Linked DNA regions of Homo sapiens. The protein of the gene in region 2 interacts with the protein of the main gene of each other region in a biochemical or structural test. Each region holds a gene or a part of one and is shown on either strand. Other genes may lie near its edges.

Region 1 (12,490 bases), on a different chromosome or scaffold from region 2:
CACATGCACGAATACACACTCATGCACACATACATGCACATAGACCCTCACACACATGCACAAATACACACCCATGCGCACACACATGCACATAGACCTTCACACACACACATGCACAAATACACACCCATGCGCACACGCATGCACATAGACCTTCAGACATACGCACAAATACACACCCAGGCACACAGATCCTCATACACACACATGCACAAATACACACCCATGCACACAATGCACATATATCCTCAGACACACACATATGCACACACACCCATGCCCAGACACACATGCACATAGATCCTCACACACACATGCACAAATACACACCCATGCACAAGGATCCTCACACACACGCACAAATACACACCCATGCACGCACACACACATAGATCACACTCACATCCACAAATACACGCCCATGCACACATACACACATGCAGATACATCCTCAGACACACACATGCACAAATACACGTCCATGCACACAAACATGCACATAGATCATCACACTCACACACCCATGCCCAAATACACACCCATGCACACATACATGCACAGAGATCCTCAGACTCTCACACACACACACATGCACAGACTCATGCACACAGATGCACAATCAGCCATGTCCAGCCCAGAAGTGGAGGCTCAGCTAAAGTCCTGGAAGCCAGCACCTGGTGACCACCATGTAGACAGCATATTTCACCGGCAGCTCCAGTTGGAATTCGGTTTTGTTGGTTCTGGGCATGTTGTTCTCACTGGAGGGAAAGAAAGAGCTCCAGCCGGCTCTTGAGAACTGACAGTTAGTCTTTGCTCCTCCCTCTCCCTCACTCCCTGCCTCCAATCAGCCACCAAGTTCTGTTATCTCTGCATCTGAAACCCCACTGTTCTCCAACCCCTGCCCCCGCCTAGCCCAGGCCCATCCCTCTCCAGCTGGATGTCTGCAACCACCTTCTTCTAACTGGTCCCCTGAATTCACACCTGCTCCCACCCCAATCGCCAGCCCTCCTGAAGAGTGATCGTTCTAACATGCAAATATGATTATGTCACTCCCAGAGGCGAAACTGCAAATCCCAAACAACACCCGTCAGTCATTTTGGGACATGGCCTGTATCTAACCACCACCAACTCCTTCAGCCCTGCATTTCATGCTGAGGCCACTCTTAAACACACCCTGATCTTCCCGTCCCTGGTATCTGCTTCCTGCCTTCTGTCTTCATGCCCGCCCTCAGTTCATGCCTTTGCTTTGTCTAAATATATTTTCTTTTTTTCCCTTTTATTTTTTATTATTATTATTATTATTATTATTTTGACACTGGGTCTCACTCTATTGCCCAGGCTGGAGTGCAGTGGCACCATCTCAGCTCACTGCAGCCTCAATCTTCCAGGCTCAAGCAATTCTTGTGCCTCAGCCTCCTGAGTAGCTGGGATTACAGGCATGCACCACCATGCCTGGCTAATTTTTGTATTTTTTTTTTTTTGTAGAAACAGGGTATTGATATGTTGTCCAGGCTGATTTTGAACTCCTGGGTTCGAGCAATTGTTTTGCCTCAGCCTCCCAAAGTGCTGGGATTACAGGCTTGAGCCAGCACGCCCAGCTCCTAAATATATTTTCTTTAGGAATCTTCTCTGAACACCAAACTCCCAAGAACACTGGCCGTCCCCCATCTAATCTTGCATCTCATACTGGATTTGAGATGGATGCAAGATTAATGGCTAGATTTCTTGTCTGTCTTTGCCACTAAATTATCATCTCCGAGAGGGCAGGAACCACTATCGTCTGATCCACCACCATCCCACCAGCACTCAGCACAAGGCCCAGCACGTGGTGGGTGGTCAGTGAGTGTTTGCTGAGTGAACAAATGAGTTGAAGGGAGAACCAGTGGGCAAAGGGCAAAGGCCCACCATGGGCCAGGGGCTGGGGCGTCAGACGGGCAACTGCCTGCAGAAGCCTGGTAGCAGAGAGCACCTGGTCACATTGGCCTTGAGGAGCAGTTTGTTTCCAAGGGAAGCCTTAGAGTCTACATCAAACGTGATATTAAAGGTGACCTGGAGTGAGAGAAAGGAGAGACAATGACAGAAATATGAGAGAAAAAATAACCCAAATGCCCGTCATCTGATTAATGGAGACATGAAATATGGCCCATCCATGCAACAGGATATTGTTCACCAAATAAAAAGCAATGAAGGCCAGGTGCGGTGGCTCACACCTGTAATCCCAGCACTTTGGGAGGCTGAGGCAGGTGGATCACCTGAGGTCAGGAGTTCGAGACCAGCCTGGCCAACATGGCAAAACCCTGTATCTACTAAAAATACAAAAATTAGCTGGGTGTGGTGGCGGGCGCATGTAACCCCAGCTACTTGGGAGAGTGAGGCACAAGAATTGCTTAAACCTGGGAGGCAGAGGTTGCAGTGAGCCAAGATTGCACCACTGCACTCCAGCCTGGGCAACGAAGTGAAACTCCATCTCAAAAATATATATAAAAAATTTAAAAACAATTTTTTTAAAGCAATGAGGTACTGACATATACTACGACATGAATGATCCTTGCTAAGTCCTTGCTTAATATTATGCTAGGGAAAGGATCACATACGGGATTATTTCATTTATATGAAATGTCCAGAATAGGCAAATCTATAGACAAAGTAGATTAGTGGTTGCATAGGGCTGGGGGATATGGGAGGACTGGGGCTGAGGGCCAACGGGAACAGAAGCTCTTTGTGAGGTAATGAAGATGTTCCAAAATGGATCATGATGACGGATGCAAGACCCTATGAATTCACTCAAAGCCACTGAACTGTATACTTTATTTTATTTTATTTCATTTTATTTATTTTCAAGACAGGGTCTCACTCTGTCGCCTAGGCTAGAGTGCAGTGGTGTGATCATAGCTCACTGCAGCCTCAACCTCCCAGGCCCAGACGATCCTCCCACCCTAGCCTCCCGAGTAGCTGGGACTACAGGTGTGCACCACCACGCCCAGCTAATTTTTACATTTTTTGTAGAGACAGGGTCTCGCCGTGTCACCCAGGCTGGTTTCAAACTCTCGGGCTCAAGCGATCCTCCTGCCTCGACCTCCTAAAGTGCTATGATTACAAGCATGAGCCACTGTGCCGGGCTTGAAATGTATGCTTTAAATAGGTGAATTGGATGGTATATGAATTATATCTCAATAAAGCTGTTTTGTACAAAAAGGAACCACTACTAAAGAAGAGAAGAAGAAGAAAAGAATCCCCAAAGAAATCAAAGAGAAAAGGAGGGGAGGAGCCAGGAGTTCTGACCTCTGAGTTTTCCGGGAAGATGGGGTGGTTTATGCTGCAGCTGGTGCTCTTCAAGGCCCCAGACACTTCGGTGGAGGAGGCAGACTCACAGGCCAGGCGCCAGGATCGCTGTGAGCGCTGGTTCTGGAAGGCAGGGGAGGCAAAGGCGGTGATATCCACCTCCGGCCGTGAGGATGGGGAAGCAAAGGTCAGATAGAGCCTGAGAAGGATGTGGCTACCTGGAGCGTGGACACCTTCCGGTAGGACAGGTCAAGCGGGAAGAAGAAGGTGACCTGTGTCCTGTAGGAGTCCTCACCATCATTTCTCACAGTCACTGTCACGTTGAACTCCCGGGGCCCACCCACCACGAGGCAGTCCAGGCTGTGGGAAGAAGAAGACAGGCCGGGGGATGGGGCGCTGGGCTTCCCTGTGGCAAGCCTGCTCCAGCAGAACAGAGACGCAGACACTTGATGAAGAGACAACAGTGGAGGGGCAGCCACACCGGACCTTATAGCCCAGGAACACCCGGCTCCCTTGGGGGCCAGGAGGAGAAAAGAGCGGGTCATGGTACGGGTCCTTCTCTGGAGGAGGTGAGGAGGAAAGGAAACTCACCTCATGAAACTGAAGGTGATGCTGAGGTCATCCTGGCAGATGTTGTCATTGCCACAATTCTTCTCAAAGGGAAACTTTTAAAAAATAAATATGATCAAATGAAAGGAAAGAAAATAACCAAGTATTGTGAAATTAAACAATAAAATCAAATGTTGAAGTAAAATTAGATGCAATCAAATAAAATGAGTTTCAACCACCTTGGTCTCTGGTCTCTTCCACACCCCTGCAGGACCCCAACTCTGGACTCACCAAGGCTGTGAAGAGTCTCTGAGCATCCTCCGCCAGCACTGGCCGGAGGTTCCCGAAAGCAGACAATGGCGTTCCCACCAGAGAGAAGTTCAGGCGCAGCACAATGGGGCTCACTGGGTCCTCGATGCAATTCTAAGAGATAGCCGGGATTTGGGGATCTGCCCTCCTCAGCTCCCCAAGCCCACTCCATGCTTGGAAGACCCAGGGGTCTGGCCACTAGCCTGCTCACCGGCAACTGTAGTTTCAGGGTCTCACAAGTCTGGGTCAGCCCCAAGACCTGTGTCTGTCTGCGTGTGCTGTTCTTTGTCTCATTGAAGACGGCGCGGGAATGTGGGCGGCCGGAGTCCAGAGCCAGGTCATAAGTCACAACACTCTGGATCTGTCCTGAAGGGACAGGGTGGCACAGCAGTGAGGGGCCTGAGCCTCGGAACCCGGCAGATGGGAGTTCAAGGCCCAGCTCCTCTGCTTCTCAGCTGTGTGACTTGGGGTATGTTATCTGACTTCTCTGAGTCTTCTTTCCTTCCTTCCTTCCTTTTTCTTTCTTTCTTTCTTTCCTCGCTCTCTTCCTCCCTTTCCTTCCTTCCTTCCTTTTTTCCTTTCCTTTCCTTCCTTCCTTTTCTTCCTTTCCTTCCTTTCCTACTTTCCTTCCTTTCCTTCCTTCCCTTCTTCCTTCCTTCCTTTTCTTCCTTTCCTTCCTTTCCTACTTTCCTTCCTTTCCTTCCTTCCCTTCTTCCTTCCTTCCTTTCTTTTTATTTTTTATTTTCTTTTTTGAGACAGAATCTCACTCTCTTGCCCAGGCTGGAGTGCAGTGGTGCCATCTCAGCTCACTGCAACCTCTGCCTCCCAGGTTCAAGCGTTTCTCCTGCCTCAGCCTCCCAAGTAGCTGGGATTATAGGCACATGCCACCACGCCGTGCTAATTTTTGTATTTTTAGTAGAGATGGGGTTTCACCATGTTAGCCAGGCTGGTCTCAAAGTAATCCACCTGCCTCAGCCTCCCAAAGCGCTAGGATTAAAGGCATGAGCCACTGCGCCTGGCCTCCATTCTTTATTTTTAAAGTGAGGATAATAATGATACCCTCCCAATGGTAAAAAGGAAATGAAATAGTGCTTATCAAGTATTTAGCACAGTGTCTTTTATACAATAAGTGCTCAATAAATGGTAGCTATTCTGTCACTCACTAAAAAATTTATTGTATTTTTCTGACTACTTTAAATTTTTTTCTCTTTGTCTTTGGTCTTCAGCAGTTTGATTATAACGTACAATGATATAATGTCCTTCATATTTATCCTGCTTTGATTTTGTAAAGAATCTTGATGTCTTTCATCAGTTTGGGGAATTTTTTTTTTTTTTTTTGAAATGGAGTTTCGCTCTTGTCACCCAGACTGGAGTGCAATGGGGCGATCTCAGCTCACTGCAACATCCGCCTCCCAGGTTCAATTCTCCTGCTTCAGCCTCCTGAGTAGCTGGGATTACAGACGCATACCACCACACCTGCTAATTTTGTATTTTTAGTAGAGATGGGGTTTCACCATGTTGGCCAGGCTGGTCTCAAACTCCTGACCTCAGGTGATCCACCTGCCTCGGCCTCCCAAAGTGCTGGGATTACAGGCGTGAGCCACCGTGACTGGCCAGTTTGGGGAAATTCTTTAACTACTGCATCTTTCCTATTCCATCCTATTCCATCTTTCCTATTCTGTCTTTCCTATTCCATCTTTCCTATTTTCTTTCTCTCTCTCTCTCTCTCCTCCCCCACCACCACTTTCTGTAATTCCAATTACATGTTTGTTAGATCTTTCACCATATCCCACACATCTCTTATGGTGTTTTTCTGTATTTTTCTTTCTTTTTATCGCATATTTATCCAGATACTTTCAAATGACTGTCTTCTTGTTCACTAATTCTCTGTTCTGCTTCTAATCTGCTATAAATCTATTTACTGAATTCTTCATTTCAGTCAGTGCGATTTTTGGTTCTAGAGTTTCCATTTGACTCTATTTTATGAATTCCAGGTTTTTGCTGAAGTTCTCATCCTTTCCCTTTTTTCTTGAAGATATTAATTATAGTTACCTTTTAAAAATTCCTATCCAATCACTCTAATTTCTGAATCACCTGTGGGTCTATTTCTATTGTATATTGTTTCTCTTGGTTGCTAGTCAGTTGTCTCAATGGAAAGACCAAGGTATTTACCAAGGCCTCTCAAATCTCTGTCTCCCCAGCACTGAGGAGCTGCTGAATTCTCTGATCAGCTCTTTGGCTTTTCAGTTGCTGTTTTCTACTGGGTGTCTTGGAGTACTGACCTAGGCATTCGTGTCTTAAGAGTCAGCCAAAGAGTAGAGGGGGACTTCTATGTAGGTTTAAGGGTACCTCTTCTTCAATTCCCTACTCTCTAACATTTTGCTCTTAATTTCTAGCCATGCTGGCTGCTCTCATATCTGGAATGCTATCTCCTCAGCACAGGAAAACTGTTCCTAGAAAGGTAATCATTTTTTAGGGATGGGTCTTGCTATGTTGCCCAGGCTGGCCTCAACCTCCTGGGCTCAAGTGATCCTCCCCTCCCACCTCAGCCTCTCAAGTAGCTGAGACTACAAGAACATGCCATCATGCCTAGCTAATAATTTTACTTTTAAAGAGGGTACAATTCTTTCTAGTACTGTCATTACTAGAGACAGTTATTCCTAGTGCTGTCACTACTAGAGACAGTTATTCTTAGTATTGTCATTACTATTCTCCCACCCCAAACACAGTTCTACTCTTTGAGAATAGGAACAAGGGAAGAAGTCACTGGTGATAAAATGCGTATGTGAGTGCTTTGTAAATCTCTGTTTAGCTTCATCAATTCAATCTCCCCAAATAGGTTTTCTCTCCGTTTATTAAAAAACAAAAACATAGTTTGTTCACAGGCATGGGGCCTTCAGTTCTCTGGAGAACTGAGTGAGTAAGGAAGTGCCACATGCTCACCTCTTTAGGGAGGTCCACTGGACTTCCCTACCCAGCAGGACAATAGCCTGCTCACTCAGGTAAGGCTTGGAGAAGGTTGTCAGAGCCTGTGAGAACTCAGTTCAGGACAGCCAGAAGGCTGGGCAGAGTGGATTGCAGCACCCATTCATGTCCTCGGTCGTTTAACCTCTTGAGACTCATCCACCAAGCCTCACCTTCTCTTAGCCGATCCCGTGTGCTCTTCTGGACATGGAGGCAGACTCTGACCTCTCCGGCTTCCTTGCCTTTCACCACCTGATCATTACACTCAAATACATTCCTTGCCACTTCCCTGGGATTGAACTCCATGATTGCCTTGACTCTCAGTACTGGCTGGGACCTAAAGGGACACCAGAAAACCATCAGGGACCTTCAAACAGGAAACATTCCTTCAAGGGAGAATGTCCGGTTGACTCCAAAAGGCATTCTCACCTGAGCAGCAGCACGTGCCCCTGGGCTCCTACAGTCAGGTCTACCAGTCCATCCATTGTGAGGTCCTGGCCCCCACTCAGTGACTGACCAAAATACTGGAGCCTGGGAGAGAGCTTGGAGCCTGCTATCCGCTGAGGGTAAAAAAGAGGTGTGGAGAGAGAAAGGGGTAGGAAAGACAGGAGATGTATAACTCAGTCATCCAGCATGGCCCAGACAGAGGTTCTCTAAGCTCTACTCAAGTCTCATCTCTTGCAACTAACCAAGGAACTAGGACAGCTTAGAACTTATCAAGGAATTATTCACCTTTAGACCACAACCTCAAGAGGATACCTACAATTTCTTTTTTAAAAAAACTTTTAAAATAAAAACGGGGGTCTCACTTTGTGGCCCAGGCTGGTCTTGAACTCCTGGGCTCAAGCGATTCTGCCCTGTCAGCCTCTCAAGTGCTAGGATTATAGGTGTGAGCCGCCACGCCCAACCCCAATTTCTATTAATTACCTGCATTTCCCTGCATACAGGGAAAAGTAAAAGTATATTATTTGGCTCAGCTGAATTTCATTTACGTAGTCAGAATAATGCAAACACTGAATGTTGATCTAAACAAAATGATCACATAAACATGAGGCGTGAATGGGGGGTAAAAGAGTGCTACTATGTGGCAAAAGGAAAACTGAAAAAGAGATCAATCTCCACCTTCCATGGTGGGAAGTCAGTGGTAAAACAAAAATCAAAAAGTAGCAAAATTATTATTATGTAATTGGAACAAATAGAGAATTGAAAGAGCTGAAAGTGGTTCCCTCAAGAGCAAGGGAAATGAAGCCAAAACCATCGTGTATGTGGAAATTGTTGTTTTTTAATAGTGAGCTTTTTGGAACTATTTTGACTCTTTAAAGTATGTGCAAGAGTAATATTGAAAAAAATGACAGCCAAATAATAAATTTTAAAGAAATTTTAAAAGTGATTTTGTCATGTCCTTAATGCAAGTGAATTGGACACTTTTAATTATGGTATAAAAGTTATAAGACAAAGATATTAAAAATAACTATAGCTAAAATTATGTTACTGGATACACAATATAAATAACTGTAAATTGTGAATCAATAACGTAAAACGTGTAGTGGGGAATAAAAGTATAGAGTGCATGTGATTTAAGTTCAGTTGTTATCAGCTTAAAATAGACCATGATAATTATGAGATGTTTTGTGGAAACCACAAAGAAAATACCTTTAGAAGTTATATACACAAAAAAAGGGTCAGACGCGGTGGCTCACGTGGCTTACACCTGTAATCCCAGCACTTTGGGAGGCTGAGGTGGGCGGATCACGAGGTCAGGAGATCAAGACCATCCTGGCTAACGTGGTGAAACCCCATCTCTATTAAAAATACAAAAAATTAGCCAGGAGAGGTGGTGGGCACCTGTAGTCCCAGCTACTCGGGAGGCTGAGGCAGAAGAATGGCCTGAACCCGGGAGGCGGAGCTTGCAGTGAGCCGAGATCGCACCACTGCACTCCAGCCTGGGTGACAGAATGAGATTCCGTCTCAAAAAAAAAAAAGTACAAAAAGAGAACAAAATGAAAGCATATTAATACAAAAATTAACAACAATAAAACACAAAGGAAGACAGCAAGAGAAGAAAAGAGGGACAAAAGACCTACATGACTAACAGAAAACAATTAACAAAATGGCAGTAGTAAATCCTTCTCTATCAATAATTACTTTAAATGTAAACAGAAGCAAACTCTCAAAACAGAGTGGCAGAATTAATAAAAATACAAAATCCAATTATATGCTATCTACAAGATACCCACTTTGTATTTACTGACACATAGGCTAAAAGTAAAGGAGTAGAAAATGCTATTCCATTAAAATGGTAACCAAAAGAGAGCAGGATGACATGCTAATATCAGACAAAATAGACTTTAAGTCAAAAAACAAATAATGATATTATATAATGATGAAATGGCCATTTCACCAGGAGTTACAACAATTAATTATATACACACCCATCAGACATCTGAATATATAAAGCTAATAATGACAGAACTGAAGGGAGAAATAGACAGCAATTCAATAGTAAGAAACTTCAAAATCCTACTTTCAATAGCAAATAGAACAACTAGACAAAAAAAAAACCCAAGGGAGAATGGACCAAATGGACTTAACAGACATATACAAAATACACAAGCCAACTACTGCAGAATATACATTCTTCTCAAGTGCACATGGACCATTCCCCAGGACAGACCACATGTTAGGTCACAAAACAAGTCTTAACAAATTTGAAATGATTTAAATTATATCAAGAATCTTTTCCAACCACAATGGAATGAAACTAAAAACAATACCAGAAGAAAAACTGGAAAAAAACATACATATGTAAAAATTAAACAATACACCATTGAACAACTAATGGATAAAAAAATAAATTAGAAAATAACATGAGATAAATGAAAACAAAAACACAATATACCAAACTTAATGGGAGGCAGCAAAAGCAGTACTAAAGGAAAGTTCGGGATAAACACCTAATTTTAAAACAAAAAGACAAATTTCAATTACAAAACCTAACTTTACACCTCAAGAAATGAGAAATAAAAGAACAAACTAAACCTAAAGTTAGTAGAAGGAAGAAAATAATAAAGATTACAGAAAAATAAATCAAATAGAGAATAGAAAAAAATCAATGAAATTAAGTTGATTTTTCAAAAAGATAGAATTGACAAGCTTTGGCCAGGTGCAGTGGCTCACGCCTGCAATCCCAGCACTTTGGGATGTCGAGGCAAGTGGATCACCTGAGATGAGGAGTTCAAAACCAGCCTGGCCATCATGGTGAAACCCTGTCTCTACTAAAAATACGAAAATCAGCCAGGTGTGGTGGCACGTGCTTGTAATGCCAGCTACTCAGGAGCCTGAGGCAGGAGAATCACTTGAACCTGGGAGGTGGAGAATGCAGTGAGCTGTGATCATGCCACTGCACTCCAGCCTGGGCAACAGAGTGAGACTCCATCTCAAAAAAAAAAAAAAAAAGAACTGACAAGCTTTTAGGTAGACCAAGGAAAAAGGGAGAAAAAACAGAAACAACAGATAAGTAAAATTATAAATGAAAGAACATACAACTGATGCCATAGCAATAAAAAGGATCATTAAGAGACTACTATGAACAATTATATGTTAACAAACTTGATAACCTTGAAGGAATGGATAAATTCCTAGAAATATACAACCTACCAAGCCTGAATCATAAGGCAATAGAAAGTTTAAACAGATCTATAATGAGTAAGGAAATTGAATCAGTAATCAAAGACCTCCTAACAAAGAAAAGCCCAGGACCTGGTGGCTTCTCAGGCAAATTCTACCAACCAAACATTTAAATAAGAATTAATATGAATTCTTCTCAAACTCATCCAAAAAACTGAAGAGGAGGGAATACTTCCAAACTTATTGTATGAGGCAAGCACTATCCTGACACTAAATCCCAACAAACACACCATGAGAAAAGATCACTACATGCCAATTTCCCTATTGAACATAGATCCAAAATCCTAAATAAAATACTAGCAAACTGAATTCAATAGCACAAAAGGGTCATACGCCATGACCATGTGGGCTTTATTCCTGGCATGCAAGGATGGCTCAACATATGCAAATCAATAAATGTGATGCACCACATTAACAGAATAAGGAATAAAAATAACATGATCTTATCAATAAGAAAAGAAAGCATTTAATAAAACTAAACATCTGTCTTAGCTTATTTGGTATAACAAATAACATAGACTGGATGGGTTATAAGCAATAGAAATTTATTTCTCATAGTTCTGAAGACTTGTGACATCCAAAATCAAGGTGCAAGCAGATTCAATATCTGGTGAGAGCCTATTTTCTGGTTCATAGGCAACCATCATTTTGCTTTTGTCTAAGGGCACTAATCCTATTAATGATGGCCACACTCTCATGACCTAAACACCTTCCAAAGGTCCCATCTACAAATACCATCACACAAGGAATTAGGCTTCAACATATGAATCTGGGGAGGACACAAACATTCAGGCCACAGGAATAGCCACTCATGATTAAAAACCCTCAACAAACTAGAAATACAGGGAAATTACATCAACATGATAAAGAACATTAAAAAAAGTGTCTAGTTAACATCATACCCAGTGGTGAAAATTTGATTTTACCACTAAAATTAGGAACAAGGCAAGGATGCCCACACTCACCACTTCTATTTCAACACAGTACTGAAAGTCCTAGCCAGAGCAATTGGGCAAGAAAAAGATAAGAAATGCATTCAAGTTAGAAATAAAGAAAAAAAAATTGTCCCTGTTTGCAATTGACATGATCTTATATATAAGAAACTTGTTATAAATACTCTACGAAAAAGTTATCAAATTTAATAAACAAATTTAGTAAAGTCATGGAATACAAAATGAACATACAAAAATTATTTGTTTCTATACACTAACAACAAACTATCTGAAAAAGAAATTAATCCTATTTACAATGGCATCAAAAAATAAAATGCTTACAAGTTAATTTAACCAAGAAGGTGAAAAATATGCACACTAAAACTATAAAACATTGACGAAAGAAAGTTAAGACAAAAATCAATGGAAAGATATCCCATATTATGGATTGAAAGAATATTTTTAAAGGTCCATACTATTCAAAGTGATCGATAGAGTCAATGTAATTCCTACCAAAATCCCAATGGCATTTCTTACAGAAATAGAAAAAACAATACTAAAATTAATATGAAGTCACAAAAGACCTCAAATATCCAAGACAATCTTGAGCATAAACAACAAAGGTAGAGGTATCACACTACCTGACATCAAAATACACCACAAAGGTATACTCAGCAAAACAGCATGACACTGACATAAAAACAGAGACATTGACCAATGGAACAGAATACAGAGCTCAGAAATGAACCCATGCATTTACAATCAAC
Region 2 (12,485 bases):
AGTTGTGATGCTCAGGAACATAGGGTGTGTTTTTTCATCCATGACTTCTTTAGTCGTACTAAGGCAGGGGTCCCCACTCCCCAGGCCGTGGACAGGTAGCTGTTACCAGCTGGGCCGCACAGCGGGAGGTGAGGGGTGGGAAGGAGAGCATGACTGCCTGAGCTCTGCCTCCTGCCAGGTCTGCATTAGTCTCATAGGAGCACAAACCCTTTTGCGAACTGCGCACATGAGGGATCTAAGTTGCACGCTCCTTATGAGCATCTAACTAAAAAGCCTGATGATCTGAGGTGAAACAGCTTCATCCGGAAACACTGCCCCACCCAACCCTTCCGTGGAAAGCTTGTCTTCCACAAAACTGGGCCCTGGTGCCGAAAACGTCGGGGCCTGCTGTACTAAGGGGTGTTAGCTACATGCTGAAGGTGCCAAGAATTTCAAGCAGCACGACGTGAGCAGATGTTAGCTCTGCAGGGCGCAGGAGTCTTATATTCATTCATTCCAGAGATACTTATTGAGCACCTCTTACTGTTCTAGGCCCTAGTCACAGTTTTGAAAAGAAACATCTAGATACAGGAAGACATACCTACAGATCATTTTAACAATCCAGATGAAAAATGAGGGAGCTGATATTGGGCCAGTGGTGGTGGGGGTGGCCACTCCTTCCCTGTGGGGAGTGCACAAGGAGAATCTTGTACCTCCAAGCTCAGCAGAGTTTCCTGTTTCCTTCCTGTGTTCTGTCTTGGGCAGCAGCTGGTGGTAGGCCTGGGGCACAGGGACAGTGCAAACCTAGGGAACAATGCCCGGCTGGAAAACAACATATTGCCTGGAAGATAAATGGACTAAGGTGTGACCTCTGAGTGTAAGGGTTGCAGAAGCATAGGTGCCCTTTGCAGATGTGGGATTCAAGCTCTCTGTCCTTCATGGGGTGTGTGGCCATCCGCACTGGAGTAGGTCTCCACTGAGTGTCTTGAGTGCTTTCAGGATTCTGAGAATCACCCAAGAGGACCAAATACGTCCACTCCTCCTGATCCAAAATTTCATGGGAATATAATTTCATGGCATTAAAGACAAAGTATAGAGTCTTTTTTCTTTTTTTGAGACAGAATCTCGCTCTGTCACCCGAGCTGGAGTGCAGTGGTGTGATCTTGGCTCACTGCAAGCTCTGCCTCCTGGGTTCACGCCATTCTCCTGCCTCAGCCTCCCGAGTAGCTGGGACGACAGGCGCCTGCCACCACGCCCGGCTAATTTTTTGTATTTTTAGTAGAGACGGGGTTTCACCGTGTTATCCAGGATGGTCTGGATCTCCTGACCTCGTGATCCGCCCGCCTCGGCCTCCCAAAGTGCTGGGATTACAGGCCTGAGCCACCACGCCCGGCCTTAACTATAGTCTTATCCAGAGCTCTTATCTGCTTGCTCAAGGGGCATGGTCTTGAATAATTTCTGGGGAAAAGGTTTCCTGTGGAATGACCCTCTTCACGTTAGAAACCTAGGAAATCAAATTATGTCCCCCCATTTCCAGTCCTGGAACAGGATATCCAGAACCTCTTCAGTGGCCACCACTAAAAAGTGTCCTTCCCATCCTGGAAAGCTCTGAGTCACATAAATTGCTCTGTCAAATGCCTGGCCCAGAGCTCTTTGGAAGAGCTTTCCCCATTCCAAAGCCCTGAAACCGAGGGTTGACCCTGGCCGGGACTCTGTGTAAAGTGCAAGATCTCAGCAGCAGAGGAGGGAAAAGAGCGGAGGCCCAGGTCTCTCACTGGTGCCGCCAGGAAGTAAACACTCCATGGTGTAATTTGTGTGAAGAGAAAATTATCTCTAATTGGAGGGCTGGAATAAAAATATCTCCCATCTGTAAACAAAGTAGTTGGAGCATCCTGGAGGCACAGAACTGGAGCACCAGAGTGCTGCAGGTACCCTGTGGGCCACCCCACCCAGATCGTCTCAGCCCCAACCCACAAGCAGCGGGCGCTCCGGGACCTCACCGGAAGCCAGTGAAGGCGGCATACCTGTCCCTGAGGCTCATCAGTGTCCTCAGCCCCGAGGCACAGTCCAGAAAACAGCTTCTCACCTTCTCCCCAGGCCAGGGCAAATATTCAACAAGTCAGGTGAAGAGGGTAAAAAAATGCTGGTCTGTTTTATGTCATCACAGGGATCCCTCCTGGAAGGTGACTGGGGACTGCTGTTTACTGGCTATCTCAGACATCTTTTCTCAGACACCTTTTCTTTGGTGTCTGCAGGGGCACCTGCTTCTCCACATCCTCAAAGAAAGAATTGAGGCAGACACCCTGACACAGGCAGAGTGGGTGATATTCTTCATGGGGCCTGAAGTGAGAAATTCCCAGGAACATCAGCCCTAGGGAAGCGATTCTGTGTCAAGGGCTTTCCTTGTGTTATTGTCCACTGTTGGTTGTCCTGTTGTGTTTTAAGGTGCACCAGTAAAGAGCCCTTGGCTGATAGAGATACCACCAGGATACTTTAACTCCTGCCCTAGCATAAGGGTGTGACTCTCTTTAACTCCTGGCATGTATGATATTTCTACTGAAAGACACACACACACACACACACACACACACACACACGAACACCTAGCCTTCTTTTGGTGAAATGCAAAAGGTTTATTAAATAGCTGCTTATGAAAGCCTCTCTCTAGGAAGCCACTTGACCAAAATCTGCCATTGGTATATAAACTTTTTCAGCAAAGGAGAGAAATGTGCAAATAGATCGAACTGCGGAAGAACTTTTCTTCTTTTGCAGACCACAAGCGGCATATGTTATTGGAGAAGATGGAAGTTTTGTCTGCTACTGTTTCCTTAGAGGGAGGTGGGAGAAGGTTTTCCTATTTAAATAAAATTAAAGAAATACTTTGAAGGAAAAAGCAGGGGATAAGAGTTGAGATAAAATGTGGGATAACATAGTTGAAAATATTGTGAGGAAGATGGGACTTAAAGAGAGGAGAGATGGAGAAACAGAAACATACCCAGGTCTTTGAAAAGCCCTGAAGAAGAATGCTTTAAAGAAGGACTCTGAGGTCAGAGACTTCCATTAGTCAAAGGATCCCACTTCTCTCATGCGATGCGGGTTGACTTCAGATGATTGTTCAGGGCTAGAATAGCATAGTAAAGGAACAGAAGTCATGGATCACATTCCTTTTTTTCTTTTTTTTGAGACATGAGGCATCGGTCAATACATGTAAGGTGTACATTGGTTCTGTCTAGAAAGGTGGGACAACTATAAGTGGGTGGGGTTGGGATTTCAGGTCATAGGCAGATTCAAAGATTATTCTGATAGAAAGGAAGGTCTGGTCTGGCTCTGGGGCAGTGGCTCGCTTCTGTAATCCCAGCACATTGGGAAGTTGAGGCGGGCAAATTACTTGAGCCCAGAAGTTCAAGATCAGCTTGGGCAACATGGTGAGATCCCATCTCTACCAAAAAAAAAAGTAGAAAAATTAGCCAGCTATGGTGGCGCACACCTGTGGTCCCAGCTGCTCAGGAGGCTGAGGTGGGAGGATTGCTTGAGCCTGGAGGTTGAGGCTCAAGCATGAGCCACGATTGTGTGCCACTGCACTCCAGCCTGAGTGACAGGGTAAGACCCTGTCAAACAAACAAACAAACAAAAACAAAAAACAAAACAAAAAAAAAGCAAGCAAGAAAGGAACGTCTGTGTTAGAATAACGGTTGTGGAGACCAAGTTTTTATCATGCAGATGAAGCCTCCAGGTAACAGGCTTCAGAGAGAGAGAGAGAGTCTGTTGTATCAGTCTTTTTTGTTTGTTTGTTTTTAGACGGAGTCTCATTGTGTTGCCCAGGTGGAGTGCAGTGGCACGATCTCAGCTCACTGCAACCTCCGCCTTCTGGGTTCCAGCGATTCTCCTGCCTCAGTCTCCCAAGTAGTTGGAACTACAGGCATGCATCATGATGCCTGGTTAATTTTTTGTATTTTTAGTAGAGACAGGGTTTCACCATGTTGGCCAGGCTGGTCTCAAACTCCTGAACTCAGGTGATTCGCCCACCTTGGCCTCCTAAAGGGCCTGGATTACAGGCCTGAACCACCGCACCTGGCCCTATCAGTCTTAAGATCTGTTTTAATGTTGATGCTGGTCAGTTGGCCTGAATTCCAAAAGGGTGGAGGGTATAATAAGGCATATCCAACTCCCCGATCATGGCTTAAACTAGTTTTTCAGGTTAACTTTGCAGTGCCTTTGGCTGAGAGGAGGGGTCATTTCAGATTGTTGAGGGGCTTAGCTTTTTTTTTTTTTTGAGACAGAGTCTCACTCTGTCACCCAGGCTGAAGTGCAGTGGCGCAATCTTGGCTCACTGCAACTTCCACCTCCCGGGTTCAAGTGATTCTCCTGCCTCAGCCTCCCGAGTAGCTGGGATTACAGGCGCCTGCCACCATGCCTGGCAAATTTTTGTATTTTTAGTAGAGACAGGGTTTCACCATGTTGGTCAGGCTGGTCTCAAACTCCTGACCTCATGGTCTTCCCTCCTTGGTCTGCCAAAGTGCTGAGATTATAGGCGTGAGCCACCACGCCTGGCCAGGGCTTAGCATTTTATTGTTGGTTTACATTCAGTTCCCCGAGCTCTTTTAAGAAGTGCATGTCTCCCTAGTAAGCCACACCTTAGAAATAAGCATATTCAGATGAGTAATGCTGTGATGGAGGCAGAGCCTCCTCAGCCCTGCTCACGGAATGCTTCCAGGACTTTGCTGCTGGCCTTATTGAGCTCTGATTCCCTTCTGCACAGGGTCAGAGCTCTCCAGGGAACAATGAAACCCTAAGGAAGAGCAGACCACTTCACAGCCACGTGTGTCCTACCCCACTCTGCTGCATCCCTAGTTAGACTTCCATTCCAGGAACTGTCTCAGCTGTTGGTAATGACATGCCGACTCCATCTGCAGAGGAAAATCAATGTCTTACAATGAAGCACCTGCCATCCACTCTCCTAGGAACCTCTGCCCCTTATAGAATATTCATGCAGCCCTTTTTTGTAATCTCGGTCTGAGTTTCAAAAGATTCCCTAGCAGGAAGACCATTTAACAGATAGACCATTTTACAACGCAAACACTGAAAATTCCGCAGGAGAAAAGAGGCACTGGTTTTTGAAAACCGTGCTCTGTCCACAGTCAGACACCATCTCACATTTCCAAGTAACCCAAACAGTTCCTTCAGTTAGGTAAATATGCCTGGCCATGTGACCAGGAGCTAAAGGGAATAATAGGGAAAACAGAGGGCAGAAAAAAATGTCAGTGGGCATAAGACGAATTTTCTTCTTTTTAATTTCTCGATTTTGTGCTTGATAAAGGGAAAGAGGCCACCATTATAAAACAACTTTTACACACTTTTACTTGTGATTTAGTGCATGGTGACCTGGAACATAAAGAAGATTTATGAAAGGAAAGACAGAATCATAGTAGGTAATTGAGTTATTTTTTAATTTTTATTCTGTCTTTATAAGATTTTTGAGAAGGTAATCAATTAACATAAAGATCTGAGCAGTTATAAAGATTTACAAAGAAGATTATACAGTGATGGAAACTGAAGCATATTCTTGGCAACAATCTCAATCTATTTCACGTTTCCCGGCTTTTACATATATAAATTTGGTATACATAATATGTAAATATACTTCTATTTTGCATGAAAACTAAAAATACTAAAAAAGTAGCATGAGTATATGAAAAAGTTAAACATTAAAAATATTAGTTGGAAACTGGCTTATTTTACTAACAATTATATTCAGAATTCTGTTGCTAGACTGCTGTTTCTGGGAACATTGGAGGTGTACTTTCTATACTTGCTAAAATACAAGCTTTTCAAGTATTTTCCATAGTATTAAGTGAGACTTTAAATACTCTTGCTTTTTTAGATCTAATTTCTGCTTTAATTTATCCTTCTCTTCATTTTTCCTGTTTGTCCTCATCTTACCTGTTCTTCCCTGGTTTTACTATCTCCCAGTATTCAGAAATCAGAGCAAATAATTAGTCTGCTTTTCTGCAGAATAAACTATTGGGTATGCCATCATGCTTTTGATCTACCACATAAACAAATTATTTTAGCAAGACATCACTTTTATATGCTGTATAATGTATGTATTGCTTATGTTTTAAGCAGATTTCAGCTCTTTTCCTTCCATCAATTTGGAATTGGGGGCCCAAAAGATGTGAAGGCGATAATGCTTCCAAGATAACTGGGCTGCATCCTTATTTGTAAAATAAGAAATACTTTATTTCCCAAATTTTAAAGGAGTGTTCCTTCTCCGACCTGTTGTGATGGATTTATTCTATAGCTATGGAAATATACCCTGCTTCACTCTTGTACATACTTCTTTACTCTCCTCCCGCCAAGTTCATTGAAAGAGAACCCATGTGCCGGTCCAGAGCATCGCTGCATCCGTAAGCAGCTAGACCTCAGCTTCCTCTGTCACCATGGTGCCGGCTCGGCTGGGCCCGGCGGTCGCCATGGTAACTGGGGCGGGTCGCAGGGTCCTGGCAGGCTGGGCGCATGCGCGCGGGGACTACAAGCCGCGCCGCGCTGCCGCTGGCCCCTCAGCAACCCTCGACATGGCGCTGAGGCGGCCACCGCGACTCCGGCTCTGCGCTCGGCTGCCTGACTTCTTCCTGCTGCTGCTTTTCAGGGGTGAGTTTGCGCGTTTCCGCTGTTGGGAGACTAGGGTCTGGGGGCGACGGAAGCAGAGCGGGCCGAAGCTGCTGGAGCCGGTCCGGGCGAGGATAGCGGTCCTGGCTCCGAGGGCTCCCGGGGTCCCGGGCCGGAGGGGCGGCGCGCGCCCGCGTCCCCGCAGCCAGGGCTGGGACTCGGGCCTGGCTAGGGCGGGGGCCCTGGGACGCCCGGCAGTTGGACCGGGGCGGGGAGCTAATTTGGGATGGGGGGCCCGTCCCAGGCAGTGAGTCGGTCCCGGACAGCCGTCGGACCCCGGGGGCGGGCTCTTCTCGGGCGGGGTCCTGTGCTGGGCGGTGGGCTCATCCCCCGGGTGGGCTCCTCCCAGGCGGGGTCCTGTGCTGGGCGGTGGGCTCATCCCCCGGGTGGGCTCCTCCCAGGCGGGGTCCTGTGCTGGGCGGTGGGCTCGTCCCCGGGGTGGACCCCTCCCGGGCGGTGGGCACGGCCCTCTGGAGGGAGCGCGGCAGCTGCGGCGTGGGCGCTGGAACTTGCTGGAAGACCCTGCGCAGCAGTGCTGTGCTCTCCAGAAGGGACGGTGAGCGGGGGACGTAGCTGAGGACCGGCGAGGCAGAGCTCCGAGGCCTGGCGGGCTGCTTGGTCACAGCCCTCTGGGGATCTGCAGTTCATTTGACTCGACACAAAGGAACTGCTTTTCTTTTACAGAAATAAAATGGATATCAATCCAGTACCTTTTTTGTCTCTGGCCTGGCCGAGGAGACCACGCAGACTCTTATCCGGAAATAGCATTCGGGGCATTTGATCAAGACACACTAATAAACTTGATAGTTTTGTGCATTTTCTTTCCCTCTGTTTGGAATTCTCATTAGATCCACATTTTCCTGGACAGTTGTACAGAGGACTAAAATAGCTTTCCTTTAGTGAGCTTGTACTGTCTACTAGGCACTTTGGAGCCATTATCTCGTTTACTCCTTTCAGCAGCTCTGTGAGATAGGTTTCATTAATCCATTTTCAGAGTCAAGTCTAGTCTGCTTTCCAAGGCTGCATTCTAAGTAGTGAAGCCTCAACTTCATATTTACCTAAAGCAGGACACCACACTCTTCCCCTGGCAGCCATCCGCAGGTAACCAGACCAGGACCTTTTTCGGTTCTTAGATTATTTTATTGTTTGAATTGCCACTGTCATCCCATGATGTTTTCCAGAATATACAAATTAAAACACGGAGGGACTGTTTAGGAGTGAAGGTGGACAGATTTTGGAAAACAAAGCATTCCTGTGTTTGGTGCTTTATGCTAATGGGATGCTCGTGATGGGCTGTGACAAAAGATGAGTTTTAGCGTATAGATTATGTACGCTAAGGCAAAGTCTGTATACTTTGCCTGAAAGTGATTCCCAAAACCAAATGCTGTTGGGAGATAAGTGATCAAAGGCTAGCCAGGGGACAAGGGTGTCAGGAATGTCCAGCACCCGCTGTGTTGGTCACACTGACACTGTCCTATTCACAGCCTGGAACAACTCTCTATTGTTGAAAAGATCTGTTCACGTGAAAGTTTGCAGTTTTTGTTGCAGAAGCATTTGGCAGTTTAGCTCAGGAATGAATTTCAACTTGGTAGTTTGTTAATAAAACTAGAAAATGCAAAGAGCTTCACTTACCCTTAACCTCTGATTTCCTTCCCCTAAGGGACTAGTTTTGTGGCTTTTTTGCTGGTAGGGGCTGGGATTCACATGCAGAGCGTAGGAGGAAGAATCAAATTTTGCAAACTAGTTCTAATGACAAATAATCGAGGTAGTAGGATGTATGAATCCACTTTGAAGGCGTGTAGCTATCTTTTTTTTAGTAGGGGCTCTTTTTCCATTATTTGGTTTATGCTTTAAGCTACCCTAAAACTGTTCTTCCAGAAGTCATGACTACTGTGTCCTTTTTATTTTTTATGATTATTCTCAATTGCTATTACTATTTATTTTCATCTTAAAAATTTTGGTTCTTGATATAACAGCAAACATTTCTTTTGTGGTTACCCTTTGCCAGGCTCTGTTACAAGAATTTAATGTTTGCTAATTTATTTAATCTTGATAACTCTAAGAAGTCGTTACTATTGTTGTGCCCTTTTGTGGATGAGGGAACAGAAGTATGGAGAGATTCAGACCCTTGTCGGGAGTGTTATCCTGTGCGTTTTAAATGGGAAATCCTTCATTATTTGTGTTAATCCAATTTTTAGTTATTTGTATTATTCCATTTGACGGTGGAGTTCTTTTAATGGATCAGTTTAAACAGATTATCAAGTTTTCAACACTATGTGGTTTGTATATAAAATATTCTTTTGTTGACTCATGACAGGTGCAGTTCAGCTTTACAAATGTTATGCCACATGGCTTTTTTGAATGATTGTGTACTCATTAGTGTTAGGTTTCCAAATCTTTGATATTCTAGAGAGAAGTGCCTTATTTAGAATTAAAACAGCAACAGTTTTCATTCTTCAGATAAGACAACTTGTGTGCTGAAGCATATCAAAATCTGAAAATCAAAATTTCTGGGAAATTTTTGAAAAAATGTTTAATTCTTTTATTTGCATCTGTTTGGACTCCAGTAACGTTTTTTAGAATGGCATATTCTTTTATGTTCTAATTCTTAATTATCTGGCAGATATAATCATTGTCAGACTTGTGTGTATGTTTTAAAAAAAACAAAGAACACCTGTCTTGAAAGCATGCAGTACTTTATATCAGCTGCTCATTCCCACATGACTTGTTGATGGGCATTTGTTCTTCAGTGCTTCAGGCTAAGGAGACTGAATGGATAAGTACTAGAGATACTTAATCATAAGTAATTGCAGTATTACATTCAGGCAGAATTATCCACACAACCCCTAAGCTCCATGGAACTTGTTCTTAAACTCCATGGGGTGGGTTTAAATCAGTTCTTTTGAAAGCAACCAGACTTTCCTCAAGTATAAGATGGCCACATAATGTAACAGACGCAGCTATGGATTTAGTACATTCGACTAGCAGCTGTTAGAGATGTGGTATTAGCAAATTCCTTCTCCATAAATTCTTTGAATTTTTTAAAAGCACAAATGTAGTAAAAGAAAGGAAAATATGTGTGAATGAAGTTAGGATGTATGGAGTCTGCTGAAGAATACCCTAGTGGTGAAGTTGGATTTTTTTTTTTTTTTGAGACTGAGTTTCTGATGCAGTGGCATGAGCTCAGCTCACTGCAAAACTCACTGCAAAACTCCGCCTCCCAGGTTAAAGCCATTCTCCTGCCTCAGCCTCCCGAGTAGCTGAGATTACAGATGCGTGCCACCTTGCCTGACTAATTTTTTTATTGTTTTTAGTAGACATGGGGTTTCACCATGTTGGCCAGGCTGGTCTTGAACTCCTGACCTCAAGTGACCTGCCCGCCTTGGCCTACCAAAGTGCTGAGATTACAGGCGTGAGCCACCACGCCCAGCTGGATTCTCTTTTAAGATATGTTTATAGTTGGCCGGGTACAGTGGCTCACGCCAGCACTTTGGGAAGCCGAGGTGGGCGGATCACAAGATCAGGAGATCAAGAACATCTTGGCCAACATGATGAAGCCCTGTCTCTACTAAAAATACAAAAATTAGCCGGGCGTGCTGGTGCTTGCCTGTAGTCCCAGCTACTCTGGAGGCTGAGGCAGGAGAATCGCTTGAACCCGGGAGGTGGAGGTTGCAGTGAGCTGAGATTGCGCCACTGCACTCTTGCCTGGGGTACAAGAGTGAAACTCCGTCTTGGGGGAAAAAAAAAGATGTTTATAGTCAGGTGGTGTGAATGTTATGCTGTCAAAGTTGAATGCAAATTTCAGATCTTTGCATGTACTCTCAGAATTCTAGCAGTATATGCAAATAGCTTCACTGGAGTGTAAAGCGATCCCGAAAGAAAGTTTTGGTAAGCACATTCTTTTACACCTAGTTTAGCAAGGACAGTATCCACTGTGGTACTCTATATGGAGAGCTAAAGCCTTAATTGACTGTCTCTCTGCTTCTTGGCATGGCACACAGAAAGCTTCCTGAGAGTTAGCCCTTGTTTCTGATGTCCCAGGAATGCTGTAGTGTTTTGTGTTGGTGTGTTTCTTTTGGTTTTAAGTAGTATTTGTTATGTGTTATATATTACATTTCCCATGAGTAGTTAATACATACAGCAGAGGTTTCAGTGCTGCTTGTATAAAGACATCAAACTATTTAATAGAGTTAGGACTATATGAACATTTTTTCTTACATTATCTTTCATTTGCAGTTTCCCAAGGTTTCTATGGTTCAGCCTTCTTCCTGAAAATTATTGCCAAAATCAAATTCTGCCATAGTCATGCTATCTGCTATGTTTGACAACCTCAGCCCACAGTGATCCTTCCTATCTCTAAATAAGCTTAGATCATAGTCTCTAGTTCAGTTTAGTACAACACCCATTTATTGAGTATCTATGACGTGTCAGGCACTGTTCTGTGTGCTAGGGTTGCAAAATGGGTAAAACATCGCCAGTCCTTAAAGAGCCAGGGTAATTGACTCCGATTTACATTGGGCTTTAGTTGTTAGGTGTCAGTGCATTGTATTTTCTCAATGATAATAAACATTTTGTTGGTAACAGAGGCTGAATTTAATTTTTTTGTATCTTTCCAGAGGTGATTCTAGTAAATATTCAGTTTATCTCACTTTGTCACTTGAAAGTGAGTTAACATTTCTTAAACACTCTCTTTGTGTCGAGGCATTTTTAAAAAAATGTCTTATTTCTAGTGGCCCTAGGAACTTCTGGAAAAGTGTCAGTTTGTACTACAGTAGTTATTCTGGAAGAAAGAGAATGGTAATAATTTATTGACTTGGTTTAATTTCAGAATCTTTCTGCCATCTGCTTTTGTGCAGTTACAAGGTTAAGAAGGAGAAAAAGATGGAGAAATGCTTATGATATCATTTAAGTGACACAAGCTGCAGGTATACTAGTATATACTGTATGATTACGATTACACAAAACATCTATGCTTAGGGGAAAAAACAGGATGAGAATGAACCAGACTGTTGATAGGGGCTGTTTATGAGTGGAAGTGTTACAGCAAATTGTTTTCTGCTTTTCTTTGTTTTTGTTTTCCTGGTTGATTCTTGTATTCCTTTGTCTGTTTTCCAAATGTTCTTTGATGAGGATATTTTTTGTGTAATGAAAAAAGTTGCATCTTGGTTTGGCTTCCAGTAGATACAATAGTGGAATTTTAAATTTGGCACTAGTAATGGGAAAATATAATTTGTTTGTTTAATGTGATAGCATGTGGATTGTGCCTTTTTCTAGCTTCTTAATATCAGCCACATTGGATGAAGGAGTGGCTGACTGGAAGTTCAGTTGCTTGATAATGTATTGTTTGTGACTCATTTGAGAGATTAGTTGCCACTGACTTTTGGGTGGGGGAGTCAGCTGTGGTGTCCTCAGCAAATGGTTAGCTGGAAAACTGAGAGCTGCCGAGATTACCGGCCTCCCCCCTTCTTTTTGAACACACTGACAAAACGATCTGAGTAATGGCCTTTGTTCACCTGTTCAAAGCGAGCCAAAATTTATTGAGCACCTACTCTGTGGCAGCCCCTGGAAGATCTCTGTTTTCTTCCTCTTGAGTGATAAAAATACAGGGTGAAATTGACTTCTGTTGAAACTAGACTCTGAAAGATGTTTCCCGAAGCACTCTGTCAGCTGATGTGCCCCATCACTTCTTCCTGCCCAACATGGACTTCCCTGTTGGATGTCTTTCTCTAAGGAAAATATTTAATGTCTTTAGAATGAAGTGCAGCTGCCTGGAAGCTTAGAGACAATGCAACAAATCCAAAGACAGCTGCTTTTTTTTTTTTTTTTTTTGGCAGGGG

The links.
Region 1: the proteins of JAM3 (region 2) and ITGAM form a complex in vitro, tested with the Homo sapiens proteins (one study listed by BioGRID).

The regions. Positions count from the first base shown.
Region 1 is NC_000016.10:31,316,415-31,328,904, reverse strand, and holds part of ITGAM (integrin alpha-M isoform 2 precursor), read right to left. Parts: intron 7,665-12,490; coding exon 7,534-7,664; coding exon of another isoform or gene 7,530-7,533; intron 7,442-7,529; coding exon 7,278-7,441; intron 4,507-7,277; coding exon 4,352-4,506; intron 4,255-4,351; coding exon 4,123-4,254; intron 3,948-4,122; coding exon 3,874-3,947; intron 3,643-3,873; coding exon 3,501-3,642; intron 3,406-3,500; coding exon 3,283-3,405; intron 2,050-3,282; coding exon 1,970-2,049; coding exon of another isoform or gene 1,927-1,969; exon of another isoform or gene 1,906-1,926; intron 759-1,905; coding exon 675-758; intron 1-674.
Region 2 is NC_000011.10:134,062,530-134,075,014, forward strand, and holds the start of JAM3 (junctional adhesion molecule C isoform 1 precursor), read left to right. Parts: upstream 1-6,542; 5' UTR 6,543-6,554; coding exon 6,555-6,630; intron 6,631-12,485. UniProt on the Homo sapiens protein: Junctional adhesion protein that mediates heterotypic cell-cell interactions with its cognate receptor JAM2 to regulate different cellular processes. Plays a role in homing and mobilization of hematopoietic stem and progenitor cells within the bone marrow.